Homo sapiens: one gene and its partner. The protein of the gene in region 1 binds, or shares a complex with, the protein of each later gene. Each region holds a gene or a part of one and is shown in the gene's direction. Other genes may lie near its edges.

Region 1 (7,657 bases):
GGGGGGTCCCCTTATAATTTAGATTCTGTGATTTTGGAAAATTTTACTCACATGATAAAGAAATAGTAGTGAAAGGAAGATGATTGAGTAGGAGCTTGATAGGCTTTATTTTTGACCTCTGGTGAGTGAGAATCCCTGAGCTGAACGATTTGTTTTCTTTCAGTGTGATCCGCCTTATTATGCAGTACTTGAAGGAGAACAGTTTACATCGGGCGTTAGCCACCTTGCAGGAGGAGACTACTGTGTCTCTGAATACTGTGGACAGCATTGAGAGTTTTGTGGCTGACATTAACAGTGGCCATTGGGATACTGTGTTGCAGGCTATACAGTCTCTGAAATTGCCAGACAAAACCCTCATTGACCTCTATGAACAGGTAAGAGTGGTGGTGATGCTGATCCCCATGGGTTGGTTCGTTGTGGGCCAGCTCCCCAACTAAAAAGCGTCAGTGAGCATTCCTTCAAGCACGGTAGGGCTGCATCAGCCCATACAACAATGGCAAGGCTTGACATTGTATTTTTTCTCCCTTCTTGGAAAATCCAGGATTTCCCAAATTAAAATTCTTTCCTTTTTTTGAGACTGGATCTTGTTCTGTTACCCACTCTGGAGTGCAGTGGCAAGATCACAGCTTGCTGCATCCTCCATTTCCAGGATCAATCCTTCCTCCTGCCTCAGCCTCCTGAGTAGCTAGGAACACAGGCACGCACCACCACGCCTGCCTAATTTTTGCATTTTTCTGTAGAGACAGGATCTCACCATAATACCCAGGGTGGTCTCAAACTCCTGGGCTCAAGCAGTTCGCCAGCCTTGACTTTCCAAAGGGCTGGGATTACAGGCACGAGAGAGCCTCAACTTTCTAATCACATAGTTAGTCTTTCTGATAACTAGCTCCTACCTATCCTGAGCCATTTCCTTTGCACAAACCCAGGTGTGATTCAAGGGGCCCAGGAGTAACAAAGATACCCCTATCACTGGTCAAATTCCAAGAAGCTCCAAGCCAAGAACCTAGGACAAAGATCAGACAAATTTGTGATTATAAAACAGCAGAGTAGACTTTCTGGAAATAAGATTGTAATTTGAAGTAAAAGTAGTGAAATTGGTTTTTGGTTTTTGTTTACGGGTTTTTTTTTTTGTTTTTTTTTTGAGACAGAGTCTCACTGTGTTACCCAGGCTGGAGTGCAGTGGTGCGATCTCTGCTCACTGCAACCTCCATCTCCGGGGTTCAAGCGATTCTCCTGCCTCAGCCTCCCGAGTAGCTGGGATTACAGGCGTGCATCACCACGCCCAGCTAAGTTTTGTGTTTAGTAGAGACGGGGTTTCACCACATTGGCCAGGCTGGTCTCCAACTCCTGACCTCAAGTGATCCACCTGCCTCAGCCTCCCAAATGCTGGGATTACAGGTGTGAGCTGCCGTGTCTGGGCAGTTTGTTTCTTTACAATCCGTATGAGTTCAATAATTCCCAAAGAAAATTTTGGTAACTGGAGAAAGGTTTCTCTGGAGCCCATGGGTATATTCCCATCTTTAGCTTTCTTTGGCATCTACATTCTGAGCAAGAAGCCTGAGAGGAGGGGAGATTGGTAGATAAAAATGAAGGATAGAGTTTGAAGGATTGAAATTATTATTTATTTATTTATTGAGACAGATCTCGCTCTGTCGCCCAGGCCAGAGTACAGTAGCATGAGCTTGGCTCACTGCACTCTCCGCCTCTCGGGTTCAAGCAATTCTCCTGCCTCAGCCTCCCAAGTAGCTGGAATTACAGGCATATACCACCACACCCAGCTAATTTTTTTTGTATTTTTAGTAGAGAGTCTGTTTCACCACGTTGGCCAGGCTGGTTTCGAACTGCTGACCTCAAGTGATCCGCCCATCTTGGCCTCCCACAGTGTTAGGATTATAGGCATGAGCCACCAAGCCCACCAAGTCCACCTGAAATTGCTAGTGAAAATGGAAAGGGGCACTTCCTGGTATTGGAAATCCTTTGACAGGCCATATCTGTGTTAGATATTTTACCGAAAAATATTAATAAGACGGTGTGTTGAAACATCTGGGGTTTTTTTTGTTTTTTTTTAATTGTCCAGGTTGTTCTGGAATTGATAGAGCTCCGTGAATTGGGTGCTGCCAGGTCACTTTTGAGACAGACTGATCCCATGATCATGTTAAAACAAACACAGCCAGAGCGATATATTCATCTGGAGAACCTTTTGGCCAGGTCTTACTTTGATCCTCGTGAGGTATGACTGTGGTAATGAAAAGGAACTTTTTGTTAACTTTGGAAATGAAATAACATGATCTTTTTTTTTTTTTTTTACCATTTTATTGTATACTCTTTGTGATTTTGATTTAATTTTTGAGAATGATGCTTCTCTGTTTATATATGTTGGCTGAAATTTGCGTATGTTAAAGAGAATAATTTTGTTCAGTTTTCTGATTATTTGAGTCTTCTATACACCTCAGTTTAGAGGATTGCGTGTTGGTTAGTAAAAAAAGCAGAACATTTTATTCTGATGTCATTTCCACATTAGCCCTCCCCGAAGTGCTGCCTGACTGCTGGTATGTTCACTGATCATTTGTGTGTCTTGCCCCTAACAATTGTAGTTTCCTTCTAGCCTTTTTAGTCCCTAGAAGCTTTTGTTTCTTCGCGGATTATGCTTACCAGTAGAGCATGATGATAGTCTTTTATTCTTCCAAAACGTTATTATCTGTATAGTTTCATTCTTCCTAAACCTTATTATCTGTATGGTTTCATTCTTCCTGCCCACCCCCCCAGCCTTTTACTAGAGGTTTGTCAAAATAGGAGGAAAAAGGATTAAAAAAAATTTTTTATGGGTACATAGTAGGTGTATATATTTATGGGGTACATGAGATATTTTGATATAGGCATGCAGTGCATAATGAGGGTAAATGGAGTATCCATCACCTCAAGCATGTATCCTTTGTGTTACAAACAATTCAATTCTTTCAGTTATTTTAAAATGTATAATTATTATTGGCTATAGTCACCCTGTTGTGCTATCAAATACTATTTCTTATTTATTCTTTATATTTTTTGTATCTATTAACCATCCCCACTTTCCTTCTTACCCCCGCCACCTCCACCCTTCCCAGCCTCTGACAACCATCCTTCTACTCTCTATCTCCATGTTTTAATTTTTAGTTCCTGCAAATAAATGAGAACATGCAAAGTCTGTCTTTCTGTGCCTGGCTTATTTCGCTTACCATAATGAGCTCTAGTTACATGCATGTTGTTGCAAATGACAGGATTTCATTCTTTTATATGTCCAGCTAGTACACCATTGTGTACATGTACCTCATTTTCTTTATTTATCTGTTAATGGTCACTTATCGTTGCTTCCAAATCTTGCCTATTGTGAACACTGCTGTAATAAACATGGGAGTGCAGATATCTCTTTGATATACTGATTTCCTTTTGGGTGTGTACCTAGCAGTGGGATTGCTGGATCATATGGTACCTCCATGTTTAATTTTTTGAGGAATCTCCAAACTATTCTCCATAGTGGTTGTACTAATTTACATTCCCACTAATAGTGTACGAGGGTTCCTTTTTCTCCACTTACTCACCAGCATTTGTTATTTCCTGTCTTTTTGTATAAAAGCCATTTTAACTGGAGTGAGATGATATCTCATTGTAGTTTGATTTGCATTTCTCTAATGATCAGTTGTGTTGAGCACCTTTAAATAAACCTGTTTGCCTTGTGTGTGTCTTTTTTTGAGAAATGTCTATTCAGATCTTTCACCCATTTTTAACATTGGATTATCAGATTTTTTTCCCGTAGAGTTGTTTGAGCTCCTTATATATTCTGGGTTTTGTTGTTGTTGTTGTTGTTGTTTTTGAGACAGAGCTCTGTTACCCAGGCTGGAGTGCAGTGGCGTGATCTCGGCTCACTGCAGCCTCCGCTTCCTGGGTCCAAGTAATTCTCGTGCCTCAGCCACCAAGTAGCTGGGATTACTGGTGTGTGCCACCACACTCAGCTAATTTTTGAGTTTTCAGTAGAGATGGGGTTTCGCCATGTTGGCCAGGTTGGTCTCGAAGTCCTGGCCTCAAGCAGTCCACCCGCCTCGGCCTCCCAAAGTGCTAGGATGACAGGCATGAGCCACCACACTTGGCCCTGTATTCTGGTTATTTATTTATTTGTTTATTTATTTTTCTGAGACAGAGTCTTGCTGTTGTCTCCCCGGCTGGAGTGCAATGGCACGATCTTAGCTCACTGCAACCTCCACCTCCCAGGTTCCAGGAATTCTCCTGCCTCAGCCTCCCGAGTAGCTGAGATTACAGGCACCCACCACTATGGCCTGGCTAGTTTTTCTATTTTTAGTAGCGACAGAGTTTCACCATGTTGGCCAGGCTGGTCACAAACTCCTGACCTCGGGTGATCTGCCAGCCTCAGCCCCCGAAAATGTTGGGATTACAGGCGTGAGCCACCCTGCCCAGCCATATTCTGGTTATTAATCCCTTGTCAGATGGGTAGTTTGCAAGTATTTTCTCAGGAGGAAGAAGAACTTAATAGGCACTGGATAATAGAATGTTAGAGTAAACCTACAAAATCTATGAGGATAAAGGAAAGGATTTTAGATTACCAGGACAGGATTTAACTTAGAGGTGGTGAAGCACTTCTGTGCTGGGAGCCATTTAAGAAATTACTAAAGAGTATAAAAGAATTCTTGGTTCTGCAAATTTTTCAAAAACTGGAAGAACAACTCTGGGTTTAATGTGGTTTACTTGGACTCTTTTCAGAAAAATAGCAGTGTGTCCTTTGGCCAGGAACTCAGTGAAAAAATAATAATAGTGTGGATTGGCTGACCTCAGTTTTCTCCCAACTCATACTTTTGAAATGCAAGCGGGCAGAATTGGGAAGTCATTTTCAAAAACTAAATTAGTTCAACTAATCCCTTCTTTAACTGGGTAATTTCTTTTCACATTTTCCTCTGTGTATGCTTCTGCTTGTTTGTTTTAAATAAGCACACTCATATCTTGTTGTTGCTTCTTGGAAATGATGCTACACCCTCTCCTTTTTCAGGCATACCCAGATGGAAGTAGCAAAGAAAAGAGAAGAGCAGCAATTGCCCAGGCCTTAGCTGGCGAAGTCAGTGTGGTGCCTCCATCTCGTCTCATGGCATTGCTGGGACAGGTAATTCAATTCCTGTAGAGGCCAGGTGTGGTGGCTCACACCTGTCATCCTTGCACTTTGGGAGGCTGAGGCAGGAGAATCACTTGAGCCTAGTAGTTGGAGACCAGCCTAAGCAACATTGTGAGACTCTGTCTCTACAAAAAGTAAAAAAATTAGCGGGTTATGGTGGGGTGTGCCTGTGGTCTCAGTTACTTGGGAGGCTGAGGTGGGACAATCACTGGAGCCCAGAAGATTGAGATGACAGCTATGATCATGCCATTATACTCCAGCTTGGGCAACAGAGTGAGACCCTGTCTCCAAAAATAAAAATAAATTTAAAAAGTGAACTCCTGGTACAATTTCCTAATTTCCTATGTATAAACTATGTCTTAGCTGAAGAAATTGTACACCCTAAGAATTGGGGACTACCTACAGAGTTGCTTATTCCAGTAACTGTGCTGTTCCACTCTCCCTCTTTCCTGGGAGAGGCAATATAGATTAGTGGTTAAGAACAAGCTCTGGAGTCAGTTAGAATTAGGGTTACCATAGAATTTATCATCCTGTCTGGAATATCGTTGAGAGTACAGTTGATCCCTATGCCAGAACACCAAGTGCAAATAGTAACTGTCCTGGAAAGATTGGAACAAATGCCCATCCTAGTTAGAATCCAGGCTTTCTCATTTACCAGCTATATAGTCTTGGCAAATTACTTAACTTTTCTGGTCCCATTTACTCGTCACAGTATTGAGAGTAAGGATTAAGAGAAATAATGTTCATAAACACTTTATACATTTCCTGGCACCTTGTAAATAGTAAATGGTAGCTGCTGGTGATGATTTTTTAAAAAATTACTAATAGTGTTGCCAGCATGGTCATTATTATAAAGCTACTTAGAGTAATAGATATATTATAAATAACAAAGGGCACAAGTGATTAATAGGGATGTTAATAACCTTTTTGCACTAAATCTGCATTTAGAAAAGGACCAAAAAGCTATTTGTTGCAGGCCTGCAGTGACTCTGAGATTCAAAAGTAAGCTGCTTTTTGGCCTGGCGTGGTGGCCCATGCCTGTAATCCCAGCACTTTGGGAGGCCAAGGTGGGTGGATCACCTGAGATCAGGGGCTCGAGATGAGCCTGGCCAACATGGTGAAACCCCGTCTCTACTAAAAATACAAAAATTAGCTGGGCGTGGTGGCAGGAACCTGTAATCTCAGCTACTCGGGAGGCTGAGGCAGGAGAATCACATGAACCCAGGAGGCAGAGGTTGCAGTGAGCCGAGATTGAGCCATTGCACTCCAGCCTGGGAGACAAGAGCGAGACTTCATCTCAAAAAAAAAAAAAAAAAAAGTAAGCTGCTTTTTGATTTCTTAATCAAACTAATAGCAGTGCATCGTTTAAGTAGTACTTCAGGGCTTACAGTGAAAAACAGTCCCATGTGCTTCCCTTCTCCACCTCTGATTCTTAACTTTCCTGACTTAGCTCCATAGCTGAATACCATGTTTATACTGTTATTACCTGATTTTTTTTTTTTTTTTTTTTTTTTTTTGGTCATTAGCAACTAACTTTCTTCAGCGAAAAATGATTTGTCTTATACCCACTCTCCTCAATACACACTTACTCTTCTTCTGGATTTTCAGTAGAGCTGTATCACAACTTTTGGTTCAATCTATATTCAATGTTTACATAGTTATTTTTATATAGCTATTGTTCACAGCTAAAAAATAATTACATGTAATTTCTTACATAAATTTTTATGATTTGCAATAATTATTGCTTATTTTTTCTTTTGCCTAGTTTTCTATGCACTTCTGCTAGTCCAGCCTGAGTATTTCTAGTAGAACCGTCAAAAGTCCTTTTTTTTCCGCTTGCTGATATCTTTCCTGAGGCCCTTCTCTTTTTGTTCCCATCAGGACTAGTTCTCTTGCATTGCTGCACAGTTACTGTACCAGGACTTCTCTCATCTTCATACTGGGAATTTTGGGTCTCTTATTTTTTTGGTAGGTCTTATTTATAGATTCCTCAGTTTTCTTTTTTTTTTTGAGACAGAGTCTCACTCTGTCGCCAGGCTGGAGTGCAGTGGCACGATCTTGGCTCACTGCAACCTCCGCCTTCTGGGTTCGAGCAATTCTCCTGCCTCAGCCTCCCGAGTAGCTGGGACCACAGGTGCCCACCACCATGCCCAGCTAATTTTTGTATTTTTAGTAGAGACGGGGTTTCACCATGTTGGCCAGGATGGTCTCGATCTCTTGACCTCGTGATCTGCCCACCTCGGCCTCCCAAAGTTTTGGGATTACAGGCGTGAGCCACCGCACCCAGCCTTTTTTTTTTTTTTTTTTTTAATTAAATGGAACACAGAGCCTTGCTGTGTTGCCCAGACTATCCTGCCTCTGCCTTCCTAAGTACTGGGATTACAGGTGTAAGCCGCTGAGCCCAGCCTAGACCCTCATTTTGTGGGAGTACTGAGTCCAGTAACTTCCTGAGAAAGGAAGCATAGAAATAAATTTTTGAGATTTTATTTGTGTCTGTAATAC
Region 2 (8,211 bases), on another chromosome or scaffold:
TGAGGCAGGAGAATGGTGTGAACCCGGGAGGAGGAGCTTGCAGTAAGCCGAGATCATGCCACTGCGCTCCATCCTGGGCAACAGAACAAGACTCGTCTCAAAAAAAAAAAAAAAAAAAAAAAAAAGTGGCCATGCTAGGCTCTCAACCCCAAGTCCAATTCATTTAATACTTACCCCATGCTGTCCCACTATGAGTCCTGGTTCTTAACTCTGGGACGAGAAAGCATAAAGCAAACTTCTATTTCATAACAACAAGCCTTCAATTATAGTATCTCCCTTTCCCTAGGATCATTTTCTGTTTTCTGAGTTCCATCAACATTGTGTCATGTGCTATGTATGTTTTATCTTGTCCAGTTAAAATTTGTCACTTTGAATGGAGCACGGCGCTCCTGGTAGGCAGCAGAAGCCAAAAGAATTACAGACCAGGCTGGGCGCAGTGGCTCACCCCTGTAATCCCAGCACTTTGGGAGGCTGAGGCGGGTGGATCACAAGGTCAGGAGTTAGAGACCAGCCTGACAAACATGGTGAAACCCCGTCTCTACTAAAAACACAAAATTAACCAGGTGTGGTGGCACGCGCCTGTAATCCCAGCTACTCAGGAGGCTGAAGCAGGACAATCTATTAAAACTGGGAGGCCGAGGTTGCAGTGAGCCGAGATAGCGTCACTGCACTCTGGCCTGGGCGACAGAGCGAGACTCTGTCTCCAAAAAAAAAAAAAAGAAAAAAATTACACACCAAATTCCTTAAATTGATTGGAATTACACAGAACAAATGTGTTTCTCATGTATCTTACCTACTCTGTCATTTGTCTCGTTTTGCATTTAAAGGAAATATTATTCAACACAACCATAGAATCAATTTATGTTTCCCTACCCTGATATCAAAGGTCAGTCAATACCATGTCCCACAAACTGATGACTTCTGATATACTGTACATAAACATGTAAAGGTGAGAAAGGCACCATAAAGTATGACTAAACCCAAAAATATATGCAGTTAGTTTAGAGAAAGAAAAAAGGAAGCAGAGTAAAGATTAAGTCAATCCTTTCATTGACACATCAACAGCAAGAGCAAAAATAACCCAAGGAAGTTATTTGTTAAACCTTAAAAATAATAAAAATGTATTATTACATTTATACTTACATTAGATGATGAAATAACTTGTTTGTACCAGAGAGATCCTCGAAAAACTTCGATTTATCAGAACTTCAAATTTCAAAAAAGAGAAACCAGAACAAGCTACTAATTAAGTTCTTACCAGGGATGGTGTGGTATCTTCATCACTGTCTCCATCCTGACTACTTTCCACATCAACACTGAGATTCATCGCATCTGCCGTTCTCTTGGGTTGTAGCTTGTTACTTTCAGTATGAACAGCTGAGGATGAATTTTGCAGCGTGGATTCTGCCTTGGAAGATGTGTTTTTCATCTTTGGAGGTATAATCCTTCTGCAAGTTTTCTTTATTTTAGTCTTCTTACACGCCACTTCATTGTTAGAATTCTTTTCTGATAGGGATTTGGGGCACATAAGCTGGTCTAGCTGGTAATTACTGAGTGAAAAGGGGGCAAGATAGACCTTAGCTGTTTTTATTAAAACTGTAGTCTGTGCTGGTCTCAGAGACACATAAGCGATGTTTTGATTTTCTTTATATTCATTTACCTATTCAGATCAATAAAAGAAAACAGAATATTAGAACTCCAAGTCCTGTGCCTTTTCTTACAGGATCCCTAACAGATCTAATAATTCCCATTTCCCAAAGACAATATAAATCCAAATTGAGGCCAGGTGCAGTGGCTCACGCCTGTAATCCCAGCACTTTGGGAGGCCCAATCGGGCAGATCGCGAGGTCAGGAGATCGAGACCATCCTGGCTAACATAATGAAACCACCTGTCTCTACTAAAAATACAAAAATTAGCTGGGCATAGTGGCACACGCCTGTAGTCCCAGCTACTCAGGAGGCTGAGGCAGAAGAATCACTTGAACCCGGGAGACGGAGGTTGCAGTGAGCCGAGATCACACCACTGCCCTCCAGCCTGGGCAACAGAGTGAGACTTAAGCTCAAAAAAATAAATAAATCCAAATTGACACCCTTCGTAAGAAAACTTATTTTCCCCTCCAAAATCCTAGATATGTAATTCACTAACCTTAACCTCAGTAGAATTCACTTACTGGGCACATTTGCCCATAAGTTTTCCAGACCAATAATAATAATGACTAGCATTTGTGACTGGGGCAAATACCCCAACTGTCAGCTGCGGATTGTCTGGAATTATTTAAAGAGTGTGAAGCCGATCATAACTGTGGCAGAAGAAAACGCAGAAGGTTGAAGAAAGGGAATCCCAGATGTGACTCTCCCACTATTTCTCGGGTTATTGATAAGAACCTTTCGTCAAAGCTGAAGGCCTAAGGGCAGGGATCCCCCGCCTACCCCCGGTGCCAGGTGCCCTCGACCTCCTGGGCCTGTGTCCCGCATAACCCTCACAAAAACCGAGGCAGGAGCACACCTTGGAAGCACCAGTCCGTTTCTCACCTTCATCTGGGGTCGCTGTCTGGAGTCCGCCTTCTCAGCCGCCGCGCCCGACCTGGACATCTTTCGGCTTCTTAGCGGCCGGCGCCTTCCCGCCAAGATTGCGGCGGGAGGCCGGGAGGGGCGGGTCCGAGGCGGGGCGGAGCCCACTCAGATCCCCAGCGGCCGCAGCGCCAGAGCAGGAAGTTGGGGTTTTACGCGCGCTTCTTAAGAAGGCCGCCTTGGCCAGGCGCGGTGGCTCCCGCCTGTAATCCTAAGCACTTTGGGAGGCTGAGGCGGCGGATCACCTGAGGTCAGGAGTTTGAGACCAGCCTGGCCAACATGACGAAACCCCGTCTCTACTAAAATTACAAAAATTAGCCGGGCTTGGTGGCGCGTGCCTGTAATCCCAGTTACTCAGGAGGCTGAGGCAGAATTGCTTGAACCCAGGGGGCAGAGGTTGCAGTGAGCTGAGATCGCGCCATTGCACTCCAGTCTGGGCAACAAGAGTGAGACTCCGTCTCAAAAAAAAAAAAATGCTGTCTTAAAGCCCTAGACTCAAATTCTTTAGGGATGTCCTGGGGCTGAACTGACATTTTTACCTTTGACTGGTGATTTTGATTCTGGTGGTACTGGGATGTCGCTTTGAAAAACACTAACAGGCCGGGAGCGGTGGCTAACGCCTGTAATCCCAACACTTTGAGAGGCCGAGAGGAGTGGATCACTTGGGCCCAGGAGTTCCAAACCAGCCTGGGCAACATAGTGAGACCCCATCTCTATAAAAAATACAAAAATTAGCCCAGCGTGGTGTTGTACGTCTGTAGTCCCAGCTACTCAGAAGGCAGGGGTGGGAAAATGGCTTGAACCTAGAAGGATGAGGCCACAGTGAGCCGTGATTGCGCGGAACTCCAGCCTGAGCGACAGAGCAAGACCCTCTTCTATAAATAATAAAATAAGATTCTGGCTATTCTCTTTAAGGTTCCTTCTAGCCCAAAACTGTTTCCTTGGTTGCTTAGTTGGGTCCCACACTGTTCCTTGCCTGAGATTTGTCCAGTTTCATTTCTTCTCCCACTCAAGGCCCAATTGTAGAACACAGGTGAAGTAATTTGGGTTAATCATATTAATAGCAACTTCAAGGCCCCTCATGACTCAAAAATTACTGATAAAACCAAACTTTTCATGGTGTCCTGTATAAAACATACTGTTTCTGGACTTTAAGACTTTGTTCCTACTGTCCCTTGTCTCCCCCGCAGTTATAAAGTCCTTTCTACTGTGAAATGTGTCCTGACTTTCCAATTAGCCAATATTATATATATTTTTTAACACGACTCAGCTTGTAAATTGGAGCTGCTTCTGTTATTATCCTGTAAGTCCTTAAAGAGTTCTTAAATAGGCCGGGTGCGGTGGCTCACCTCTGTAATCCCAGCACTTTGGGGAGGCCGAGGTAGGTGGATCATCTGAGGTCAGGAGTTCAAGACCAGCCTGGGCAACATGGCGAAACCCTGCCTCTACTAAAAATACAAAAATTAGCCGGGAGTGGTGGCCCACGCCAACACTCAGCACTGTGGGAGGCCGGAGTGGGCGGATCACTTAAGCCTGGCCAACATGGTGAAACCTCGTCTCTACTAAAAATACAAAAATCAGCAGGGAGTGGTGGCAGGCGCCTGTAATCCCAGCTAATCAGAAGGCTGAGGCACGAGAATTGCTTAAACCCGGGAGGTGGAGACTGCAGTGAGCTGAGATCGAGCCACTGCACTCCAGCCTGGGTGACAGAAAAAGACAGTCTCAAAAGAATAATAATTACTTAGATATTTAAATACAAACATTTTCTAGCCAGGAATGTATTTTAATAGGTAGTTTCCAGAAACTGGAAAAACCTGAAAGCCTAAAAAAGTGGAGTTTTGGGATTTCAGGTGGGCAATGTCCCAGGCACCTCGGGAGTTTTTTTTTTTTTTTTTTCGGTCACTGGCCTAAATCAGCACCACCTGCCCTGTGAAACCAAATACCGCACCACAGCCCACCCTGGCCTTATGAACTAAGCTAATCGGATACTACTGGCAAGATTTTTATTCCATCAAACTCTACTTCTTCTGAGCTTTCAACAAGCCATTCAAACAGTAACTCACTGTCGCCTGAGTTTCTTATTCACTATACCGTTCTTGGCTTCAAACCAAGCTAACACGTAAAATCTTTCATTCGAACCTTCCTCACCGCAGAGTCCTAACAGCAAAGCCCAAAGGAAGCAAAATTTCCCGCCAAAAGCTGCTTCCAAATTCTGCGACGTAGAGGACATGCGGGCAGCCAATGAGCATGCGCAGAAACCGACTCGACTTCCTAGCTGTGGGCGCCCAAACGTCGTCCACCATCCCACAATCCTCTCGTCACGTATTTCCGGTTTATCTAGCTCAGCCGTAAGTAGTTTCTCTATCAGTCGCGCAGCTGTGTTCGCGGACTCAGGTGGAAGGAATTTCTTCTCTTCGTTGACGTTGCTGGTGTTCACTGTTTGGAATTAGTCAAGTTTCGGGAATCACCGTCGCTGCCATCAACATGTCGGTCCCAAGCGCTCTCATGAAGCAACCGCCCATTCAGTCTACGGCTGGGGCCGTCCCAGTTCGCAATGAGAAAGGTACGGTGCTAACACCCTCTTCCCAGTCGAATTTTAACCCCTTCCGGCCCCAGCAACCTCCAGACCTCTCCCGGACAGACCACTCCAACCCCGCCAGCTCTTGAGATCTGGCTGCCAGATTCTTCGATCTTTCCACCCCCACCCACTTGCATCCGATCTTGTTCCTGTGGCCTGCTCTCGTATTCAGCAAGCACCTCTCTTCTGTTAGCCTCCACAAATTCCTTAGACTAATGTTACATATATATAATATATATTACACATATAAAAACATTAGGAACTTAAGTATATATCAGAATATATATGTCTAATATATATATGCTAGAATATATGTATTAGTCTAATATATATTATGATTAGAATATAATATCACTAATTACATATAATTACAAGAATTTATGTATTATTAGTGTAATTACTTAGGAACTTAAGTATATTATTAATCTAATAATTAGGAACTTAAGTATATATCAGAATATGTATATAATATCAGACTAGATAGATAGATAGAGAATGCCTGTTGGCAGGGCATTGTGCGGGATACAGTCCCTCTTTTGCTGTCCATAGAAGTCTGCTTATGCTGCCCAGGCTGGACTCGAATTCCTGGGGCTCAGGCTGTCCTCCTGCCTCAGCCTCCCGAGTAGATGCCGCCGTATCTAGTCTCAACATGGCTTTTGAGAATTATCTTTGGATCCCTATACATCTAATTCATTCATCTTAACAGCTTATGAATTCCATTGTATAAAATAAACTGTAATCCACACTTTATTCCCTACTGAGAGGCAGGTGGTTGTCCCCTTGTTCAAAAAAGTGCTGCGGCCAGGCACGGTGTCTTATGCCCATAAACCCAGCACTTTGGGAGGCTGAGGCGGGCTGAACACCTGAGGTCAGGAGTTCAAGACAGCCTGGCGATCATGGCGAAACCCCGTCTCTACTAAAAATACAAAAAATTAGCCATGCATGGTGGTGGGTACCTGTAATCCCAGCTACTTGGGAATCTGAGGCAGGAGAATTGCTTGAACCCGGGAGGTGGAGGTCGCAGTGAGCAGAGATCGCACCATTGCACTCCAGCCTGGGCCACAGTGTGAGACACTCTCTCAAAAAAAAAAAAAGAAAGTTCTGCAATTGTCATTCTCTAGCCAATACTAGCTTTATTTAGTACCTGTTGCCAATTGCTCCCCAAAGTAAGTTATAAGAACATAAGAATTTGTGGAGCACAGTGGCTTACACCTGTAATCTCAGCACTTCGGGAGGCTGAGGCAGGAGGATCGCTTGAGGCCAGGAGTTCAAGACCAGCTTGGGCAACATAGCGAGACCACCCCCCACCCCCGCCAATCTCTGCAAAAATAAAAATTAGGGCCCGGCGCGGTGGCTCACGCCTGTAATCCCAGCACTTTGGGAGGCTGAGGCTGGTGGATCACCTGAGGTCAAGAGTTCGAGACCAACCTGGCCAACGTGGTGAAACCGTCTCTACTAAAAATACAAAAATTAGCCAGGTGTGGTGGCAGGCGCCTGTAATCCCAGCTACTCGGTAGGCTGAGGCAGGAGAATCACTTGAACTCAGGGGGCAGAGGTTGCAGTGAGCCGAGATCGCACCATTGCACTCCAGCCTGGGGGACAAGAGCAAGACTTCGTCTCAAAAATAATAATAATAATAATAATTAAAAATTAGCGGGATGTAGTGATGTGCTCCTGCTACTTGGGGGAAGCCAAAGCAGGAGGATCACTTATGCTCGAAAGTTCAAAGATGCAATGAGCTATGATTGTGCCATTACACTCCAACCTAAGCAACAGATCAAGACCCTGTCTGTTAAAACAAAGGCTGGGCGTGATGCCTCAGGCCTGTAATCCCAGCACTTTGGGAGGCCGAGATGGGTGGATCACCTGAGGTCAGGAGTTTGAGACCAGCCTGGCCAACATGGTGAAACCCCGTCTCTACTAAAAATACAAAAATTAGCCGGGTGTGATGGCGCACGCCTGTAATCCCAGCTGTTTGGAAGGCTGAGGCAGGAGAATCACTTGAACCCGGCAGGTGGAGGTTTCATGGAGCCAAGATCATGCCACTGCACTCCAGCCTGGCCAACAGAGCAAGACTCTGTCTCAAAGAAAAAAAAGAAAACAAACTTTGAGAACCTAAGAGCTTTATTTCCCATATATTCATCATCTACACACTTGGTTGTATCAGATTTTTACATTTTTTGCCCAATCTAACAGGTGTGAAATGGTATCTCATTATTCTAATTTGCATTCCCCTGATTACTAGTGATGCTGGGCTTTTTTTTTTTTTTTTTTTGAGAAAGAGTTTCACTCTTGTTGACCAAGCTGGAGTGCAATGGCTCCATCTCGGCTCACCATAGAGCTACTGCGTCCGGCCGATGCTGGGCATCTTGTTCATGTGTCTAATAAGCTCTCTAGATTTTCTTTTCCATGAATTACCTGTTTCTGTCAGTTACCCACTTTCTGTTTGCTTTGTTTTTATATATTCCAAATCTATAGTATACGTTTCCCCATTTTTTGGCTTGTCTTTTAATTATGGAGTCTTCTCTTACACACGTTTCTAGTTTTAGTATTATCAGATTTATCAACTTTATCTTGTATGGTTTTAGCTTTTTTTTGTATATCGTTTAAGAAATAATCCTTCCCTGCACTGAGATCACAGATACTCATATTGTAAAGGTTTTCTATCTTCTGAGTGTTTGTATATATTAAATTGAGTTGAATACACACTTATACAAGACAGATTATAAGTTAGCTTACAGTCCAGTAGGGAATGTAAATATTTAAGATAAGTTTTTCATAGTTGCGTCTTTAATCCATCTGGAATTTTTGTGTCTGTGGTGGAAGTTAGAGGTCTAATTTTACTATATGGTTGGCCAATTGTCCCTTCTCACCCCATCCATTTTCTACTGATTTTTAATGCCATCCCTATAATATACTCGAGTTCTCATATAAGTTTGTTTTTCTTTTCTCTGTTACATTGATCTCTGTGTACTTCCTGGGTCACTGACATATCTGGTAAACTATGCCCCACCCCTCCTTCCCCGCCCCCATCAGCTTTATTCTTCTTCAGCATTGTCTTG

What was found. Proteins that work in one complex are often made in the same cells at the same time.
Region 2: SMU1 (region 1) and MFAP1 share a complex: the UniProt entries of both Homo sapiens proteins name them as parts of the spliceosome B complex.

What each region holds. Positions count from the first base shown.
Region 1 is NC_000009.12:33,066,313-33,073,969, reverse strand, and holds part of SMU1 (WD40 repeat-containing protein SMU1), read left to right. Parts: intron 1-163; coding exon 164-374; intron 375-2,077; coding exon 2,078-2,230; intron 2,231-5,035; coding exon 5,036-5,146; intron 5,147-7,657. UniProt on the Homo sapiens protein: Involved in pre-mRNA splicing as a component of the spliceosome. Regulates alternative splicing of the HSPG2 pre-mRNA. Required for normal accumulation of IK.
Region 2 is NC_000015.10:43,821,414-43,829,624, reverse strand, and holds the start of MFAP1 (microfibrillar-associated protein 1), read left to right. Parts: upstream 1-4,934; 5' UTR 4,935-5,055; coding exon 5,056-5,134; intron 5,135-8,211. Other genes in the region: WDR76 (WD repeat-containing protein 76), read right to left, coding at 1,259-1,660, 2,533-2,592. UniProt on the Homo sapiens protein: Involved in pre-mRNA splicing as a component of the spliceosome.